Regions from separate parts of the Homo sapiens genome. Here region 1 is linked to region 2. Evidence: fine-mapped expression QTL. Tissue or cell type: whole blood. Region 2 holds a variant in brackets; the other region holds the start of a gene. All regions are shown on one strand. Distances are from middle to middle.

Evidence for each region. PIP is the estimated chance that this variant, and not a neighbour inherited with it, causes the effect.
Region 1: MARCHF6 starts here. The variant in region 2 is fine-mapped to the expression of MARCHF6 in whole blood (TOPMed, PIP above 0.99).

What each region holds. Positions count from the first base shown.
Region 1 is chr5:10,352,260-10,355,016 of GRCh38, forward strand. MARCHF6 (membrane associated ring-CH-type finger 6) reads left to right here and starts at 1,436. Exons shown (of 26, transcript NM_005885.4): 1 at 1,436-1,658. The coding sequence starts at 1,640. It overlaps MARCHF6-DT (MARCHF6 divergent transcript), which reads right to left and starts at 1,798. Exons shown (of 3, transcript NR_183261.1): 1 at 1,713-1,798. RefSeq lists enhancers at 995-1,254, 2,101-2,672 and silencers at 1,395-1,534, 1,575-2,044.
Region 2 is chr5:10,386,112-10,388,868 of GRCh38, forward strand. MARCHF6 (membrane associated ring-CH-type finger 6) reads left to right here. Exons shown (of 26, transcript NM_005885.4): 5 at 883-955. Among named protein-coding and RNA genes, the nearest start is that of MIR10397, 15 kb to the right of the region's middle. The variant C/T (reference allele first, on the strand shown) is at 1,294.

The DNA.
Region 1 (2,757 bases), 34 kb before region 2:
GAGTTGGATCAGAAGGAGAGGGGCTGGGGAAAGATCGTCTTCAAATTGTTTCTTTGGCGGTAGTATATATAAACATATTTAGGCAGGGCATAGTGGCACATGTCTGTAACCCCAGCACTTTGGGAGGCCGAAGCGTGAGGATCGCTTAAAGACAGGAGTTGAAAATCATACTGGTCAATATAGTGAGATTGCAGTGAGCCATTATCGCGCCACTGCATTCCTGCCTGGGTGACAGTGCGAGACCCCTTCTCAAAAAAAAAAAAAAAAAAAGAAAGAAAAAAATCATAAGCAAACAACAACAAAAAAACAAATATAAAGAATGGCGGTCTGCTTAATTCTCCGTGCCAGCCCTTGAAATCAGTGGGTATTATTATGTAGAGTTTGAGTTCTTTCCTCCCTTGAGTAACATGAGTGACATCAGTAACATTAGTCAAGCGCTGCTCTTTTTGAAAGACTGTATTTCATTATTTTTATTCTAAACCTTACTCTGTTTGATGAAGATTGGGGGAAGAGCCCTCCCAATTCCACCGCTCACACATAACAGCGGTTGCTAGCATTCTTTATTTGTGCTAGGTCATCTGCATATTGTTTAAACATTTTTCGAGGCTGGAAAGACTGCTCCCACTCAGGCAATTCTGACGTGGCGGCCCTTCTAATTTATATTCTCTAAATAATTCTTCATTTAGAGAAAACAGTCAGGGATTACAGTGAGGGAGGGTGACGTGCTGACGGGGACAGAGCTTGGCTTTTGATCATTCTCCCCTTAGCTCTGCCCAGGCAAGCGTCCCTAACTCAGGGTATCGGAACCGATCTCCCTTAGAGGATTATGTTTCAACCACCAGCCTCAGCGGTTTACTCAAATGTCCTTCCAGCCAAATGCAGAAGTCTCCCTGGGAGTAATTTTGGTGAAGTCAGCTTTTGCCTTTTTCATCACAGGCAGGCTTTAGTAGTTCCTCAAAACGTGCACCACAACTGCCCGGCTGCCAAACAGAAATGCTGATGCCTGGGCCCACTCTAGCCATTTGGCCTCGGCATCACGGTGCGGGAGCGTGGGGCGCAGACTCGCATTGTCACAGGAACCTCCCGGCCTTCCGAAGAGCCCCGCGCCGGGGCCTTTGTCTCGCACGTCGGCTGGGGCGGGAGCTAGGTTCTCGCAGCCTCCTCCCACCGCTCTGCGCCTTCTTTGTCCCTCCAGAAGCCGCCATCAAAGCTCAGCTCCTGATTAGGTTTCGGCCCCGCTGGCCGGCGCAGTCTCGGCGACTACCCCAGGCGGCCTGGCGCACGCGAGGATTCGCCGCGCCCCAGATGCAGGTGCCTCCCCTCCTTAGCCGCCGACCGACAGTGCACGCCGCGGCCGCCGGAAGTGACAGCGCCTGTCGTTGGGGAGCTCCCGCCCCTTCCGCCTCGGCGCCCCGCCCAGGCCTCGCCCCTAGGTGTTCCCGCCCCTCCCCCTCCCGTGTCGCTCGCTTTCTGTCAGCCTCTCTCCCTCTCCCTCTCCCCTCTCCTTCCTCTCGCTTCCTCTCTCGCACCTGAGCGTACGCACCTGCCCGGGCCCGGCTCCCTCCTCCTCTCCCCTCCCTCTTTCCCCGCCCGGCCGCGGGAGCCTCGTGGCTGCGTCACCGCCGCCCCCCCAGACAAGATGGACACCGCGGAGGAAGGTAAGTCGGCGACGCGCGGCGCCCGAGCCCTTGCGTCGGCGCCCGGGTTCGTACCCCGGCCAGGTCCGCGGCGCTCGAGGTGGGCTGCTGGATCGCGGCGGGGCGGACGCCTGGGCCGTTTGTCCACCCGCTGGGCCTCTGGGCCGGGGAGCGGAAGGTGACCCTCTGCGCGCCCCCCGCCGTTTCCCGCCCGCGCCGCCGAGGGGGGCGGGGACCCTGCCGGGCAGGGGCCGGGGCCGGGGTCGGGGCCTCGGGGCTACTGCAGGCCGGCGTGGCCTCCCTTGTCCCCGCCGTCGCGCGCTGGCCCAGAAAAGGGGGCCTCTGTCGCTGCCGTCCGGGGGCGTTTTCCGCACCCTTCCCCCACTGGGTTTTGTCTTTCTTTACGTCCTTCTGCCTATTGCTCGCCAGGCCCTACCCCCTCGCGACAGAACTTCTTTGTTGACTTTGAAACTTCGCGAAAAATACCCCGCCAGATGACGGCCGAGTGGAGTGAGCTGACCCCTGTTGAAAAGCCTGGTCCTCGGCTTGCCTGCCGCTCGAGAATCTGTTTACTAAACGGGGAGGCTCTTTTGTTGCGATCCATTTGGTTTTAAATCCTTGACACCTATAAGCAGGGTTCTGTTTGTTTTGTTTTGCGATTGCTTGTGTTTTGGATACGGTTACATTGAACAAACTGACCCTTGTAAAATGAATACTTAAGATATAAACGTCCACACCTTATGTCTCTTCAAACGCATTTTCTTACCCACTGAAGGTAGTAGATTATTTTTAACCAGCTGTGTTTTTAAATGAGTGGTGAGTTTATAGAGGAAATTACTAAATTTTGCTTTTTTTGATGTTCCGGTTATCGTGCAAATGCTTTTCTACTTTAGGTATATTTATGGGGGTATGAGCGTCTTTCAACCTTATGGGTTGCGATTTTGGCGATTTTAAACGAAAATGAATTATCAAACGCCGTCATGGAGTGCAATAATGAGTGAAAAAAGTTTGATATTATCTATGTAATGAGTTGATAACGACTTATTTTTTTTTAAAGAAGTCTTGCCTTTAATAAATACCTCAACTATAACATGTGGCACTTGATGTACATTCGCGTTCC
Region 2 (2,757 bases):
TTGTCAGTTTTACATTGTTACAAGCATACTTGTCTGAGTATTTTATAAACATGTAAGTAATTTTTATTACAGAAAATCTTTTCCTACCTTTCCATTTTGACTTGGTTTTGAAAACAGCCATTGAAGTCACTGAAAATCTGATTGGAAGTCTCCGATACAAGGCTATATAGGGAATGCTTAAGCTAATACACAAATACTGGTTTGAAAGAAAGCCTCAGGTTTTTATTCTTGTGCCCCATTTTCAAATCTGTGGTCTGTTATCTCATTCTGTCTAGAATTCTGCTTTCCTGACTAAAAGACTTTCTGCCTTGATAGCAGTTCGTTCACCCATACTTTGTCTTTCTCTAAATGGCCAGAATTTAGAATAATTATATTCTGTATTTTAGAGGACCTGTGAATCTGTGCTTTTAAAATATTGGTTGTCAGGTTGCCATTTATGGCATTGCAGTACATACTCTACTGAAAAATTCTCTTAATTTCAAAGACTTATACCTCCAAAACTGAAACCTTTTATTGTCATGAGCAGACTTAATGAATTTTGGAATTCTAGAATTTAAAAAATTCTTTATATTATAATTTTGGAGATCTTTACTTTAGATTTTTCTTTTCAAACATCTAAGCTCATTCAATAAAAAAAAGCAACTAAACCTAGAGAGAATCTAAGTGCTAAACATGATTGTGTAACATTTACTCTTCATTGTCACTATATTTGTGCTTGACTGTGTTTTTAAAAATTTAATATTTTGAGACTTAGGCTTGTAAAGACTAAATGTTTATTTCAGTGGCATTTGTGGCGTTCCACTTTACCTCTGCTTTCTTGAGCAGCTATGTGAATTCATGATGCGAGTTGTGACTGTGTGCCATCATGCTCTTTTTCGGTAGGCCGCATCTACAAGTGCTTGTTTACTGGCTCCGTGAGCTCACTACTGACGCTGCCATTAGATATGCTGTCAACGTGAGTATTGAACCTCTGTGACGAATGTTGCATGATGTAGATGATGCTTGCTTTTTTCCTTGCATATTTATTTTATTATAATTTGTAAATTCTTTTGTTTTGAGAACAATAATTTATGTCTATTACACTAACAGTTATAGCTGCAGTAGAAGTAGCTGATAAATGTAAATGACACTTCTTTTAAAACATACCTGTTTTATGGGACTGTTTTGTAATGATGGGATGACTTTTCTTTCTTTCTTTTTTTTTTTTTTGAGATGGAGTCTTGTTCTGTTGTCCAGGCTGGAGTATAATGGTGCGATCTCGGCTCACTGCAACCTCCGCCTCCTGAGTTCAAG[C/T]GATTCTCTTGCCTCAGCCTCCAGAGTAGCTGGGATTACAGGCACTCGCCAGCATGCCTGGCTAATTTTTGTATTTTTAGTAGAGACAGGGTTTCACCATGTTGGTCACTCTGGTCTCGAACTCCTGACCTCAGGTGATCCACCCGCTTCGGGCTCCCAAAGTGCTGGGATTACAGGCGTGAGCCACCGCGCCCGTCCGGGATGACTTTTTAAATAGGCTGTCACGCAGTTTGAGATACATACTACTGTCTTATGTTCACAAAAGTTTTTTTGTTTTGTTTTTTTAAATGGAGCCTCGCTCTATTACCTGGGGTAGGGTGCAGTGGTGTGATCTCTGCTCACTGCAACTTCTGCCTTCTGGGTCTCCTACTTCAGCCTCCTGAATAGCTGGGATTACAAGCATGTGGCAGCAAGCCAGGCTAATATTTTGTATTTTTAGTAGAGATGGGGTTTCACCATGTTAGCCAGGCTCGTCTCAAACTCCTAACCTCAAGTAATCTGCCTGCCTCGGCCTCTCAAAGTGCTGGGGTTACAGGCATGAGTCACTGTGCTTGCCCAAGAGTTCGTTTTAACATGTGTTTTTAACATACACATTTGAACTCAAATTTATTTTTTAAATGTTTTCCATGATTATTAGAATATAAATGCTAAGAACTTGCCTGTAGTTACTTTACTATATCTTGATATTAAGCATTGTTGCTTGCCTTATATTGGCAGGCTTCTTTTTCCCTCTCACCTGATAGGCTTGAGGGTCACCTGAATTGCTTTCATTAGACTACTCATTGACTCCAGAGGACCACTGGAAGCCTAGTGGGGCTAGTCAAAATAAATTATAAACATGGCTTGGTTTTAGCTGTCTTTTACAGTTTGAAAAATTGAGCCAGTTTTTCTGATAGCAGTTGTGACCAAACTACTTTTTTTCTGAGTAATGTTTTACACTCTCTATAGAATTTTTTTTCTGTGAAATTTTACTTTAAATTTCCTTAATGTCTTACCAGTTTCTATGTATTCTGTAGCTCAGTAATTGAGGTCATGTCTAGGTGCACTGTATCAGTTATCTATTGCTGCAAAACAAACTGTCCCAAACCTTAGTGGCTTAAAACAGCTACCATTTTATTTGCTTATAATTCTGGGGTCAGCAGTTTGGGCTGGGCTCAGCTGAGCTTTTCATCTATTGGGCTTGCCTAGGTCACTCAGCTGTTTTACTGGGACTTAATGATCTAAGATGGTTTGTCTGAGATGCCTTGGTTCTTCTCTTTGTGGCCTCTTATCTTCTAAAAGGCTAGTAGGGCTTCTTTACATGGTAGTCTCAGGGCAGCATTCTAAAAGGGCAAGAGAAGAAGCTTGCAGGCCCTCCTCTGGGCTCTGGAACTTGGGCAGCATCGCCTCTGTCCAGGATTCACAAAACCAGCCCAGATTAAAGGAGTAAGGAAAAAGGACTCCAGAGTTTGTCACCAAATGTTT